Linked DNA regions of Homo sapiens: region 2 is linked to region 1. Evidence: fine-mapped expression QTL. Tissue or cell type: B cells. Region 1 holds a variant in brackets; the other region holds the start of a gene. All regions are shown on one strand. Distances are from middle to middle.

What was found. PIP is the estimated chance that this variant, and not a neighbour inherited with it, causes the effect.
Region 2: MAST4 starts here. The variant in region 1 is fine-mapped to the expression of MAST4 in B cells (Schmiedel 2018, PIP 0.95).

The regions. Positions count from the first base shown.
Region 1 is chr5:66,990,896-66,998,778 of GRCh38, forward strand. The region is part of intron 4 of MAST4 (microtubule associated serine/threonine kinase family member 4); the gene reads left to right. Among named protein-coding and RNA genes, the nearest start is that of MAST4-AS1, 9.3 kb to the right of the region's middle. The variant ACTT/A (reference allele first, on the strand shown) is at 4,265.
Region 2 is chr5:66,592,636-66,600,518 of GRCh38, forward strand. MAST4 (microtubule associated serine/threonine kinase family member 4) reads left to right here and starts at 3,758. Exons shown (of 29, transcript NM_001164664.2): 1 at 3,758-4,383. The coding sequence starts at 4,021. RefSeq lists silencers at 3,394-3,593, 4,204-4,343, 4,354-4,503.

The sequences.
Region 1 (7,883 bases):
TAGTTATGAATTTAGTTATTCCCTATGAAAGGCTGATTCTTTGGATTAAAAAAATAGGTTCAGAATTATTTGAGTGAAAGCTTCTCAAAAATAATGACTCTGAAATTTAGGACCTTAAATTGCTACCACACTCAAAGAAGAAATTCTGTCCTAAACTGCTCTGAAGTATCAGTGGTTTGAGAGAAGGGATGTTACAGAGACTACAGGCATGAAACAGTCTGCTGATACTTTGCCATTAGAAAAACTGGCTGGCTGGTTTGCATATTCTGGTCTATTCATTTGTTCACTGTTTCCCACTTGTTCTTTCATTTGCTTCCCTTGGAGAGTAGCAAGTTGAAAAAAATTCAGTAGTTTTGGTATGGCTCATATTTACGAAATGCCAAAAAAGAACCAAGAGTTCTTTTTCCTTTCTCCTCGAAAATTGCCCTTGTTTGGATACTTACATGTTATATGATGGGCATAACCCCTGGGTCCCATGTTGATAGATGAGTGTTAGACTCACCCAGAATATTACCTGTCTTATATCTTTGAAGCACATACGAAATAGCCTTTGTGATTTGAGTGACTGGGCCAGTGTTCTCCATTATGTGCAGCAGGCTTCACTCCACAATAAAGCTGAAAGAACTTCACTCCCCAGTAAAGCTGAAAGTAACAGACAATACCTCAAGTTTTAGGTGCTTTACAGATACCTGGCAGCTCACTGAAGTATATCCAATCCTGTTTCTGGGACAAAATCACTGGATGGATCTTTCCGAGCCATGATTTTTGCAGTAATGTTTCTGAAGCTATAGCACTAGATACAAAGGATAAATAGAAAAATGATTATTTTGAAAGGGGAGAGAAAGGACTCTGGCAGTATCTGATGCCACTCTAGATGTTAAATGTGGTTATGTTTATCTTTTAGCCCCAGGCAGTTTATGGTTTAGGATTTTTGAACGATTGAAGGATGTGCCTCCATGAGCCCTCACCAGAGACAGCCTGGGCCTTCCTGCTTTTTTCTGTGTGTTTTGCATCAAGCAGTGTTATTTGAAGGTAGCTGCAGTTCCTTCAGGGAAGATGAGTTGGCAGCAAGGCAGACAGATACAGTCATGGAGCAAGTTACTAAAGACTTGTAAATCACTCTCAAGTTATATAATGTGATTTAATATATATTAAAACAATGATAGCAGAAATAAATAACTCATGTAGGATGAACTGTTTTCAGTTTTCCATGATGCCTGCAAATCTTTTTCTGTATGCATGCGTGATTTTATGATTGCAATCGTAATACAGGTGCACTTTTTTCTGTTGTTTTTTCATGTAATGCATTACCATGCTGCTATATAATCTTCATAATGATCATTTTTGGTGTCTGCATAATTAGTAAATAAGTCATCTACTCTTGATAACTATGAGGAAAATAAAAGAGATAGTGTCTATATCAAGAACTGATGTCCTTTTCAGTGTTTCGCATCTTCACTTCCGGTTTTCTCTAATGAAAAGAATTAGGGAGATGGAGTGATAGCTACCACTCCTTGGGAAGCCTGTCTCTAAATTCTGATGGGTAGCATCATCTACTAAACTCAGACTTCCGAAGTCATGGGCAGACTTTCCCCATCACCTATACCTTGCACTTTCATCTTAAAGTTTCAGTCCCCTTTAAACTGTAAAGCCAGCTAGATGGTCACATCTTCTAAGTTATCAACTAAACGTTAATTCTTACTTATCAATCTCATCTAAAGCCTTAGGTGAGATTGATTGTCTGTGCAATACAGGCAAGAACAAGATGTAGGAACGGGCAGTTGTGAAAGAGGAAGAAATGTGCTAGGAGAGGAGATGAACAGAGGGAACTGATTGTGAAACATTACTCAGATGAGCTGATCTGAAGTCTGTTCAACTTTGTAACTCCTCCTAAGTGCGACGGAAGGTTTCACTGGGTAAGCTGACATTTGTGAGCCAGGAGCCCCAGACTGTGAGGTGGTGGCCAGCAGATTGCAAACCTTGAGCACTGTTGATGTAGCACTCTTGATTCTCATCTTTTCTCTGCTATGGCTGTGTGTGTTGATCATGTTTCCAGCAGGATTGAGTTACTACCTTGGAAAAAGGTCACCCTGCTCAAGTTCATGTTTTTATTCATCTTTTTAGAGAAGACAAACTACACTTTACTTCAGCCATACTTATTGGGAAGGAAAGTAAAAACCCAATAGTGGCGTTTGGTTCATTTATTAATAAACCTTTTAAATATGCCTGAATATCATGGACTTTTTATTGATCATTTTATTACTCATTACGAAGATTGTCAATAATGACAGTGCTTTAAAAGAAAAATCATCCAGCCAATTGACAAAGGCAACCTGATTTTGGAAGCATCCCTCAGGGCTTATCTGTAGAAGTTGGAAAAATAGAAAAATAACTGTTTTTGTTTTTAGTTAACCTTAGAAAAATGTGTGTGCAACCATTCATTCCGCTGAGTGTCTGGTGTGTACTTTGAGACATACACAGATGAATAGAAACGGTCCTTGTACTTGGAGAGCTTTAAGCATAGTAGGGCATTAGACCTGTAAACACATAATTGTGCTGCAGTGGAATGACTGGTAAAAAAGAGGCATGCATATGAATAAAATTCATTGGGGAGCCAGGAGAAAAACCATTTATGTCTGCAGGAAAAGGTCAGGACCACTTTGCTGGAGAGGTGACCTTACAGCTCATGCTTGAAAGATGTGCAGGTTTCCAAGCAGAGGAGCTGGAAATTCTAGGAAGAGGAACAGGATGTGCAAAGGCAGTGAGGTGTGGCAGAGCTTACTGTGTCTGAGGAGCTTAAAGTAATCCAGTATTTCTGACAGGCACATAAACAACAGAGGGCACTTGTTAAGGGATGAGGCAGGAGAAATAACAAGGGATTATAGCATAAAATATTCCATTAAAAGAGGTTTTGATATTTTTGTGGAGTACCTCTCAAACTTTAAGAATCACCTGGACATTTTAGTAGAATGCAGATTTCTGGGCTGTACTTCCAGAATTATAGAATCAATGGGTGTGCAGAAGACCCCCCCCCCCACCCCACCAAATCTGCATTTCTAACAAGCACTCCAGATGATTCAATGATGATAAGACAGAAACCATGTGTGGAGAAATACTGCTGTAGAACAATGGGGACCCATTCAACTTTGTTTCATGGGAGAGTGATATGACTGCGTGCACCTGTTTGAGCTGAGCAGTTTTGGAAGAATGGTTTCACATTGACAGTGAGGAGCACCAAGAGGAAGGAACGGTACCGCATTAATCTACACAAGAGATCGTGGAAGCCATGACCAGGGTCATGGCAAGTGAGGAGAAGACATGAAAATCTATTGTTCCTTTATCATTTTATACAGAGTGAAAACTTTTACCCAATTTTCTTTTATTTTCCAATTTTCCAATCTGGTGTATTTTTCAGCCACTTTTAAATGGGATTTGCTTTTCTTTTCAGTTTTCTATTGCTGCTGTTTACATGTCCTCTGGCCTTGTTTTTCTTTCTCCTTCGTATATTAGCATTCTTAATAATTCTGTACGTACTTCATTTCCTAAAAGCTACTTATAAAGACAATTCTTGTTTCACATTCATTCATTTGTCACTCACCTGTCACTATATTGAGTAACTTGACTGGCTGTTGTTCTCATTCCTATTAACTGGAGTAACTTCTCTTTGAAAGTTTTTTGATCACCAGGAACTTTAATATGGTTGTCTTCTATAACATGTATGACAGTACATTGAATACAAGAATATTTCTATGGTTGGCAGCAGAAACGTCGTCTTTACCTTTCAGTACTCTCAGTCTAACTATATACAGACAGTTTAAACTGAATTACCTAGTCTCATGGGAAATAACAAGTTAGGGTGTTTTGGAGAAAGGAGGAAGTAATCCCAAATTATAGCTATTTAATTCTTTGAAATGAAGAGCATTATTTTTATTATATTCATGTCTAGATAATGTTAAAAGTAAGTTTGCTTCTCAAGAGTTCATGTTTTTTTTGAGCAGTGAAAGAAAGCTTTTTCATTGTACAACATGACAGAGGGAAGCAGGTCTGGAATTCAAAACTGTTCACATAAATGCACAGCCTCACCAATCTGCAAATAATGACACATATATTCAAACAAAAGCAAAGCACTGCATGGATTTAAAGCCCAGTCGGCTTTGAAAATACCCGTTTGCCCAGTTGCCATAGACAAGGTAGTAAGGATTTATATCTAGAAATCAGAGATATTTTTCATTTTTATATTATAGAATTCCTGAGAGTAGGAAAG[ACTT/A]CTTTTTAAAAGCAATTTTAGTATTTATTTCCAAGACTCATAGAGCTTTTATTAATGCATATGCATTATTTCGTGTGTCAAAAAATATCAATCAAATTTTATTAAAATACCAGAGTAAAAGTGTGTATTGTTTTCTTAAGTTTGTAAACTCTTCAAAGTATTCTAAAATTCTCAGGAACTTGAACTTTCAGGTCATGATAATAGGACTGTCAAATGTGTGGCTCCTGGAAATCAGAAATTTTTTTGTCTGTTTGTTTTTGAGACAGAGTCTCACTCTGTCTCCCAGGTTGGAGTGCAGTGGTGTGATCTTTGCTCACTGCAAAATCCACCTCCGGTTTCAAGTGATTCTCCTGCCTCAGCCTTCCAAGTAGCTGGGACTATCGGCACCCGCCACCATACCCAGCTAATTTTTGTATTTTTAGTAGAGACGGGGTTTCACCATGTTGGCCAGGATGGTCTCAATCTCTTGACCTTTTGATCCACCTGCCTCGGCCTCCCAAAGTGCTGGGATTACAGGCGTGAGCCACCATGCCCAGACGAAAATTTTTTAAATTTAAAACAACCTAGGCATAGCACAGTGGCTCATATGTGTAATCCCAACACTTTGGGAGGCTGAGACAGGAGGATCACATGAGCCCTGGAGTTGGAGGTTGCAGTGAGCCATGATTTCACCACTATACTCCAGCCTGAGAGACAGCAAGATGCTCTCTCAAAACACACTCACATACACACACACACACACACACACACAAACTTGTAAAAAAACATGAGAAGTATAAAAGAGGATAAATCATAATTCTGTACTGACAGATGTTCATTAAAAATACTTTGTTGGCCAGGCATGGTGGCTCACGCCTATAATCCCAACACTTTGGGAGGCTGCGGTGGGTGGATTGCCTAAGGTCAGGAGTTTGAGACCAGCCTGGCCAACATAGTGAAATCCTGTCTCTACTAAAAATACACAAAATTAGCTGCGCATGGTGGCAGGCACGTGTAATCCCGGCTACTCGGGAGGCTGAGGCAGGAGAGTTGCTTGAACCCCGGAGGCAGAGGTTGCAGTGAGTCGAGATCGTGCCATTGCACTCCAGCCTGGGCAACAAGAGTGAAACTCCATCTCAAAAAAATATATATATATATACTTTGTTGATTTCCATCGTTTTTATTCGTATATAACCATATATATAATATCTTAATGTAGATCATAGAACTTCATTTTTTTCTGATTTTAAAATATTACTTCAGGAGCATTTCCCATTTATTACATATTTTTTAAAAATATCATTGTTTTAGTTTCTTCTGGTTACTATAACAAATTATAACAAACTAGCTTAAAACTAGCTTATATTTATTTATTCTCTTAGAATTTTAAAGGTCAGAAGTCCGAAATCAATTTCTGTGCGCTGAAATCAAGGTGTCGGCTGGGCTGAGCTCCCTCTAGAAGCGCTGAGGTGGAATCTGTTTCCCTGCCTTCTCCAGCTCCTAGAGCTGCATTCCTTGCAGTTTTTTGGCTCTTGTCCCCTTCCTCCATCTTCAGGCCCAGCAGCCTAGCATCTCATTTCAGTGCCACATTGCTGCCTTCTTCAAGTATCCCTCTGCCTCACTTTCATAGAGACACTTGTGATTATATTTAAGGCCCACCTGGATAACCTAGGACCAACTCCTCATCTCAAGATTCTTAATTACATCTGCAAAACTCTTCTTGCTATATAAGGTAACATATTCACAGGTTCCAGAGATTAGAACCTGGATATCTTTGGAATCTATTATTCAGCCTACTGTAATTCTAATTCTTTACTGGTTTTCTAAAATTCTATTTTGTGGCTGTTTTAGGATGTATTAACAATTGCCCTCATCTTGTACCTTTGGCTTTTTCCCAACATTATGCTATTATAAGCAATTCTGAGATTAATTTCCATATCCACAAATCTGTGTGCATACTTGATTGTATCTTTTGTATAAATATTGCATATTAAATTATAATTCAAATATATCTATGTATATATTATATGTACATGTATATATGGACACATACATTTATATATGTGTTTGGACATGTACACATATGTGCCTACTACATGTATATATATGTATGTGACCATATATGGGTCTATGTATGTATATGTTTTCCTTCTCCAAATTGCCTTCCAGAAAGTTAGTAGAGAGTACTTATCTTCCCCATGTCCTTACCAACATTGAGTATTATCTTTTTTTAATCTTTACCAGTGAAACAGGTAAATTGATACCTAATTAATGTGTTTTTTTTCTTTTCTCTTTTTTTTTTTTTTTTGAGATAGAGTTTCACTCTATTGCCCAGGCTGGAGTGCAGTGGCATGATCTCGGCTCACTGCAACCTCCATCTCTGGGGTTCAAGCAATTCTCCTGTCTCAGCCTCCCAACTAGCTGGGATTACAGGCACCTGCCACCATGCCCAGCTAATTTTTTGTATTTTTAGTAGAGACGGGGTTTCGCCACGTTGGCCAGGCTGGTTTTGAACTCCTGACCTCAGGTGCACCACCTGCCTCCCAAAGTGCTGGGATTATAGGTGTGAGCCACCATGCCCAGCCTGATTGATGTTTTAATTACATTTTATGATAACTAGTAAGAGTTAACACTTGTCATGCCTGACATTATATTTATACCCCTATGAATTAACGTTTCTTTTAAACTTTTTGTTGGTATAGAAGTGATATAACTTAATAGAACTCCTTGACTAAATAACTTCATGTCCTCCCTGACATATCTTCCGATGTGTGGAATAATTGGAATTGATCTTAGCAATGGAAGGAAATTCCGATTGTTACAGAAGCATGTGATTTCTACCTCTGTATATGCTCCCTGTTTGGTACTTTGATGAAAACTCATACTTCTCATTTTAATGGCATAATTTTCCATAACTTTAGATGTATGACCTGGAAAAAATATTCAAGAAAAGAAGAACGGATAAATTAACCTTAATCTTAAATTACAGAAAGGTCTTAGTGTCAGCTACGAAAGGGCTAAATATAACCATGCTGACCCACTTAAACCAAATTGACACTTCTTATAATTGCACTATAATTCATGCTCAAGAGCTGTATAAGAAATGATGCACCTTAGACCCAAGTTTCTGGATCAAGAAGCACCTTGTCCTTGAAGTTAATTCCAGATTGAGCATCTAATGCAATGATTAGTAGCCATGGTTCACTGTTACCATCAAAAAGAATTTAGCACTTCATACACAACTAGTTGTATATTTATACTTAAACGCAATTCGTTACCTATCATGGTCTCTGTTGAGATTTTGAAATTTGAAACAGTAGACCTGCCTAATAGGTACAGCTTATATAGATAATGGAATGGACTCATGGACCCATGAAACTGAAATTGAAATAGACAGGAAAAGGTTTTTAAAACACATATAGGGTCAGTCTTTAAAATATTAGGCAGGTAGCCCTAACTTTGTTATCACACATCTTTCTAACCTGTAGCAAATCCATCCTCAATCTCTTCTTTCCCCTGCCCACCCCTTCACCCCCAATCCTTTCTCTATTGTTCCCTTTCTCCCTTTGCTTAATATTCATCCCAATGGTGGTAGTGATGGTTTAAAGATGAGGGGATAAAGCCCCTGCCCTCAAGG
Region 2 (7,883 bases), 400 kb before region 1:
TTAGGATTTTTAGTGCATTAAATAGAAACATATTTACTTGTGATTTTGCAAAAATGTTCGTTCTGAGTTCATGATGTTCTAATTTCATCTATGTAAGAAAGAAGGACAACTGACCTTCCTCCCAACCTGATGTTTGGGAGAAAGGTCATGACACTGGGAGTAGACTTAAGGGTATGATGACTTTGCTGGAACATCGTCCATCTGGCAGAGACAGCTTGACATTCACAATAGGCCTCACCTACACAGCAGAGACTGGCAGAGACAACAGAGACTCCCAGAGGAAATGTCTCCCGTCACTTCTGAGAAAAACATAGAAACCGGAGGGGGGCATTCAATCACAAAACACAATGAATACTTACCGGATTCCCAGGGGTGCTGTCCTTGAATCAAATACTTTGTGAGCATGTCTCACAGAACACATGGAAACTGATTACCTTGGAGTACACCGACCTTGTCTCTCCTCGCCTTAGGCTAGTCTGGTTCTGTCATGTGACGCTACACTATTGGCTTTTCAGGAGTTGTGATGATGTTGTTTTTATTTTTCTGGCTCCTGCCTATGGTGACACTGCAGAGAAAAACCTGTGCTTTCACACTCACCTCTGGTCCCACAGTCTCCAACACTAGACACGTTTATAAAAAGGTCTCTTGGAGGGGGCACATTTCTGACCACTGAGGAAAATATTTATTATTTAATTAACAAGATAGGAAAGTTGAACTTCAGGATTTGGATAAATCAAAACTGATTTTGGTCCAGTGGTTTGGCCACACCCCAGGAAATTTATCCATGGGTCTAACTAGGATACTTTTGGGGAACTATCCTGACTCTCTAGTCATCTTCTATTTATAGTTATCCTTTGAGTTGGCCATGTTCTGGTCTGGATACTCTTAGCCTGAACTACAGTTTATTTCCCTCACAGGTGGGTGTGGAGATGAACAAGTACACTTTTAAACTGCAAGTTTTGAAGTAGAGTTTGAAATCTATTTAGTGGACTACAACTAGCATCTTTATTTTTAATAAAATATAAATTTCAGGGTGCATTGCTTAAAGGATGGGTAAGTATTGTCTCATGACATTTTATTTGTATTTGTACATATGCATATGTGTCATGAGTTCCAGTGTGAAATATATTTCTTATTTGAGGTTCAGGTTTAAAAAGTTCAAGAAATACTGATCTAGTACTTGACTTTGATCTGTAGAGGTTAAGAGCACAAATGCTGGGACCAAATGTTCAAATCTGAATCCTGGGTCCATCATTTGCTAGCTGTGTGACTTTAGCTGAATTACTTAACTTCTCTGTCATAGTTTTCACATATTTCACAAATATGATATGAGAATAGTAATAGTAGCTACCTCATTGGGCTGGTATGAGAATTGAGTATATTAACATTTTAAAGTGCTTAAAATCCTGCCTGGCACATAGTAAGTACCTTAAAAATGTTTGTGGGAAAAACAAATATGTTCCTCAAGTATTTTCTTTTACAGATTGAATCAATACAGCAAAGTTTCTTCCCTATGGATATTTATAATATGGTATATATATATATTTGAAAAAGCTGTCTGTTTTGAGTGGCATTGTATTAATACTAGAATGCCTAGGAAAGACAGCCTTGGAATCAGGTTGCTGGGTTCCAAACCACAGCTCCACTGCTTACTTGCTGTGTGACCTTTGCAGATCCTCAGTTTCTTAATCAATAAAGTGGGACTAATAGAATCTGTTTCACAAGGTTGTTGCCAGGATTAAATGAGACCATCCAGAGAAGATGCAGAGGACTCAGGCGATAATAACTATTGTCATTCTTGCTGTCGGTTATTCAGACCATGACCTTGCTTCTTATTTCCCTATGTACTGAAAAGCAACTCCTCCTCTTCTTTTATGTGCATGGCTGAAATTGTCATTTCAGTTCAGCTCTGGTGAATCAACCACGTAGGGGCTCAGATAAAGACCAGAACTCCTAAATAGGAAAGTAATTGTGAGGCCCGGGTTAAATTCGGACTGCCCCACTGTGCTCTCTCTTTAGCCTTGCTCTCACAACTTAGCTGCCACTAGACTTGACCTTTTGCCTCAGCAGGTCTTCATATCCCTGTGAATAATTCAGAAGCGTCACAATGAAAGCCTGACAACCGGAGTCCATTTTGCAGTATGGCTGTCTGAAGCAAGATAGACAAAACGTATTTCCTTCCCCTTCATCTTGAGGGGAGGAAACTGATCAGGACAAAGGTTGCTGTCCAATATGATGAAGCCCTCTGTGTGATGTATCACTTGTAAATACCATGATAGCATGAAAGGCTCATTAGCTGAAGGGGCTTTCAATTAGGGTCCTCCAGTTTTTAAGGACCTTTGGCAAGGCTGCTCTGACAAAGAGAAATCTAAGATGCTCAAGGACCTGCTACTGTTTTTCTGTAACTCTTTCCTCTTCTCCCTCACACATTTTTCCTGTATCACTTATCACAGCTTCTAAAATGGATAAGGGAGCTATATTATGCAGTATCAATCTCTCGCTTGACCATAAGCTGCTCAAGGGCAGGGGACCTGACTTATTAATCTTTGTATCCCCTGCACCTGGCACACATCTCCATCAACGTACATGGAACTGAGGCGGTTGAATTTACATCCCAGGTCACTGTGCCAGAGCTCAGAATGGGACTAGAGCTGAAGGCAAGAGAGGAATCATTTATTTCCCACTGCTGAGCTGAGTGCTGGCTTCCAAGGAAATTCCAGTCACCGGACAGGCAGCATCCTCCAGCCCCAGGGAAGGACTTAAGGGTACTCTATTGGTACCTTTAGTGAAAGTTCTTTCTCCTAGTTCTTAGAGGTAAGGAAAATGAAGCAACCTGTCCTGTATCCTGTTGGTTTACAACCCAGGGCTAGGAGAATGTACATTGGAAAGTGAATCCTTTTCATCCTCTGCTTAGCTGATCATACCGAGACAGACAATTTGAGTAGGACTACAGAGCTTGGTCCTAATTAAATACAAGGACATACTTTTTTATCTTCCTCCCTATCAAAAGGTTCAAGTCTCAGACTTAACTTTTTAGTTTACAAACAGAAATAAAGACAGGAAATAGTCTTTTAAAAACGCTCCGTGTATCCAAGCCAGGCACTTTGCTGATGCATTATATATATTTGCTCTAAGCCTGCCAAGACCAGTAGTAATGTAGCCATTTACAGTTGAGGAAACTGAGGCCCAAAGAGCTTAAACGGAAAAGCAGAGATTAGAGGTCACTCCCCTTTGGGTCCGCTCACTATACCACGAAGTTTCTGTCCTTTTCCTCCAACACGCTGGTGAGTCCGTGTGCGTGGGTGACTGTGTGTGTGTGGTTCCTTTTTTCCCTATAGAGCCCTCCTTCTTGTCCGTTTTCTTGATTCCACTTTTTGGAGACAAAGTCCAGTTCTTCTCCAAGGTCTCACCATCCGCTCGCCGTCTCCCTCTGACGTCCCAAGGACGGTCAGCCACTCCCCCGCTAAGTTCGGAGTCTCAGCCCTTGGCTCCGATTCTGGGCTCCGCCCCCACCCTCCGGGGACCCCCGCCTGGTCCCTGTCCCCTGCGCCCAGGCGCTCCAGCGGGACCACGGCCCGCGCCCGGGCCCCGCCTCCCCTACCTGAGGCCCTCATGGCCGGAGGCGTCGCAGCCTCCGCCCACCAGCGCGCCTGCCCTGCCATTGGCTCTGCGGGCTGCCCGTCTCCTTGCTCCGTCCCGGAGGCAGGTTTTGCAAGGAGAAGCCGCAGTACCCGCGGCTCGGGTGCAGCGCGGGAGCACAGTGGAGCGCAGATCGCGGACCCGAGCGGGCATGTCCCCGCGCGCGGGAGCCTCCGTTTGCGGCCGGGCCCGGGCGGCTGTGAACTTAGCAGCGGGCTCCTGCGGCCCCGTCACTGCCATGTAGTCGCTGGCGGGGCTCCCTGCAGCCCGGGAGCGGCAGTGCCAGTGAGCCTGAGCCCAGGAGCCCGCGTCTTCCCCGGGAGGCGCTGAGTGCGCGCCGCGCCCCCGCCGCTCGGGAGGCACTTTGGGCCAGACAGGGAAATGGGGGAGAAAGTTTCGGAGGCGCCAGAGCCGGTGCCCCGCGGCTGCAGTGGCCACGGCAGCCGGACTCCAGCCTCTGCGCTGGTCGCCGCGTCCTCTCCGGGTGCTTCCTCGGCCGAGTCCTCCTCGGGCTCAGAAACTCTGTCGGAGGAAGGGGAGCCCGGCGGCTTCTCCAGAGAGCATCAGCCGCCGCCGCCGCCGCCGTTGGGAGGCACCCTGGGCGCCCGGGCGCCCGCCGCGTGGGCTCCGGCAAGCGTGCTGCTGGAGCGCGGAGTCCTTGCGCTGCCGCCGCCGCTTCCCGGAGGAGCTGTGCCGCCCGCGCCCCGGGGCAGCAGCGCGTCCCAGGAGGAGCAGGACGAGGAGGTGGGCCTTTCCCCAGCTTGCCCACTCTGGGTTCCGGCAGCCGGGCGACCGTAGTTTCCCATCCTGCGCACAGGCAGTGGGCAGGAGAGCGCTGTGGCCTGGAGATAGGGAGGGACCCCAAGCGCTCTGCCCCGAGCACGGGACAACGATAGTTAGGAGCCCCCCTGTGGGTTATTGACTTCCCTGTGGCTGTTACCCCCGTGTGTGTGTCTCAGTGTGCTGCCTGATGGTGTGTTTTTAAAATGTCAGAGAAGCAAACTCCTTCGTGTTTGTATCTGACTTGGTTGATCTGTGAAAGGATGCGATCTGGACATCTGGCGTGTCCCCACAACTCACCTCTGATTCTCCAAAGTGGGCGTTGTTTCCCACCGAAGCGCTTGGGCCGAGGGGCAGGGAGTTGAGGGGGAGAAATGGTGCCTTGGGGGTAAGAGGCAGGAGTAGGGTGGGGGGCAGCGGTAGCCGCGGAGTTGCCTGCGGAGGTTTCAGTGGCGCCAGCCCCCTGGGATCGCCCGCGGGTGGTTTTGGCGCGTCCCCGCAGCGTCGGTCCTCTGGGAGAAGAGGACTCCCCGCGCTCCCTCGGTGGCGCTGGCGTGCGCGCCTGCAGCTCCCGTTCAGACTTGTTTCCAGCTTGTCCAGATGAACGCTTGTCACCAAACCGAGTACAGATCGTCTTACCTTTTGCGGGGCGGAGCGGGGTGGGGGATCTGTATCTGCCCAGTTTCCTGGAAGGATGTTCCTCCAGAACTTGTGGGTCGCTTCCTGACACACTGAGCATAGGACTCTGGTGTCCTTCTGGCTGCTCTGTCCGGCTTATTTTCTGCTTTTGGAGGACAGTTAAAGAAGTGTACAATTCTTCACGTCTCAGAGCCAGACTCAGTTTAAAAAAAAAAAAGATTGTTTGCTTTGGACGTTTCTTGTGGGGAAGTCATCTTGATCAGGCAGGGCCACAAATAAAACATCACCTTAACATAGACTTATTGTGAAATTAATTCCTGAGTGCCAGTGTTGTATTTTCCTCATCTTGGATGGGGTTAGCTTTAGTAAATAATTGCCTTTGTCCCTTAGAGTAAGCAATCAGAGGCCCCCAGCCTGGAAGCAAAAACTGGATGTGGCACAAGGTTGAGAGGAGGCGAGTCCTAGCTTGGCAGAGATGGAACAAGCCTTAGCTGCTTAGCTGGTTCTTGGCCAAGCCACTTGCAGTAACCATGACCCATTCCCTAATTCCCCTAAGCCCCCATTGCAAGGATCCTGGATAAGGGTCTGGAGGCCTGCTTTCTAGAACTGCCTCTGCTACTGAGTGGTGAGACCTTGGGTATATCATTTCACTCCTCTGAGGTTCAGTTCCATAATCTGTAAAAGGAGGAGCTTCAAGGTAAATTTCATTTTCACTCTCATACTCCTGTTTCGAATCAGGAATTTCAGATGAATCCATAGCTCCAAATCGATCCTAGCGGCGGGATGTCAGGAGTTTGCTGAGTTCCTCACCCACCGCAGAGCTACATCCTAGCGGAGATGATCAAACCCTGTACTGCCCCAGCCTTCCTCGCTGATTACATCTCCCTTTCAAGGTGCGGGGCATGTGCCACGTGTTTGCCCCTTAACTTCTGCCTCCACTTCTACAGATGAGCACACTGGCATTGGGAAGCTGGGGGTGTACCCTAACTTAATGATTCACCAATAGTTCCTAATTTAGTATTGCCGCTGGTGGAGAGTAGTTAGTTGCTTTATGTTTTCTATTTAGCTAGGAGGGTGCTCCATGGTAAGTGACATGGTCTTGCAGGTGGTGGGGAGGGATGTTGTCGGGGAACTTCTGATCCCCATTCTGTCGCTGATTTATTGCCTGGCCTCAGGGTGACAGTGCTTTGCTTTGTTGGAAGTGGATATAATGATAACTTATTTCACAGGCAATGCAGTGAGAACTGGTTGATTGAAACACATTTTGGAAAGTGGAATGATTAAATAACATGGGTCACTATTTGTGAAATCTCAGAATTGCGTGTAAACTGATACAGTATTGCAATTTATTATGTAACTTAACCTGCGGCATGGGATGCTGGAAATTTCCCAGGAGCAAAATCTTGACTTGCTCTGAGAATTTTAAAGTGAAACGAAAACCAAACCATGTAGTTTTTTCCCCTCTTATGGAGTAGAGGAGTGATAATCTTTGTGAAAGGGGTTGAAGTCCAGTGTGCATTTTCTGGTTCTTACACTGGTGATGGTATGGGGCAGGGGGGTGTTCACCTTCACTGTTTGTGGGGTTGTGGGCCTCTTTAAGGAGCAAATGAAACCTCTTTTGCCCCTCTCCTCAAAAAGCACACCAGAGGATTCGGGAATGCTGGGTGATAAACACTCATTTTAGTGGAAAGACGTGGGTTTGATTTCTAGCTCTGCCACCTTGACCAGTTGTGGGATTGTGGACCATTCAACTTCTGCAAATCTCAGCTTTCCTACCTTTAATGGGAATAATAGCATTAGAGTTAGGCATTTTACACATGCTATCTAATTTAATCCTAGCACAGTAGCTAACATATAGCATCAAATGCCAAGTAAGTGTAAGTAAATATTAATTTTTTAAGGTCACTTTTGATGACATTTTGCAAAATAGGAATACAAAGTTGGGTTGTCCTGTTATTTTATTGCTGCATAACTTATATGCTACCTACTGTCAGAGAATCGGAGGCTATGTCTACTTAGCTTATACTCATAAAATGGGAATAAACTGGGAAACAGTTTTTATTTGTCTCCAGTTATTTTGTGACAAGGCGATGTGAGTGTAATGTTATACTGTAGAAAGGCACTGAGTATAAAGCATTAAAAGGCTTGTGTGCAACTCAAAAAATGGAAAGAGGTTCATTTAAAATTGTTATGTCTAGCTTGGGAAATTGATTATTTCTAAAGGGGTGTGTGTGTGTGTGTGTGTGTGTTTACAGTAACATTGTATCAAATTTTGAAAAGCAGTAAAATTCAAGCTTCTAGTATATTAGGGCAGTGCTAATTTCTTTGGCAACCTTGTTAAAACTGTTTTGAATGTATTTAGTAATGTCAACAGAGTTTGACTTATTTTTTACTTTATCTTACTGTCAATAATTGTATAAACTTCCAAAGTCTCACACACTTAAGTCTACCCTTTAAGCTTTTGGTGTCTTAAAAACAGTAGTTTAATGTGACAGTAATGGTAGTTTTTATGTCAAACACATGACAGCTAGACATACAGCATGACTTTTGTTTAAGGAAACTGTATCTGACTTTGGCTCTTTCCCCAAACCTTTGAATTTGGGGTCCGTGTGTGTTGAGGAGGTAGCACACTTCATTTCTGAGAGTTAACACTGTCTAGATTGAAGGACTGTTCCCCTGACAACATCTCTGAGATTTGCCTTTAGGCATTCTGCCTTGTCCTTTTCCAAAACACCCTGTGATGACTTTAAGAAAGTACTTGGGTGCTGTTTGGTAACTGTCTCAGCAAACTGGCCGAGGGCAGGAATTTTGTCTTTGTACGCCTA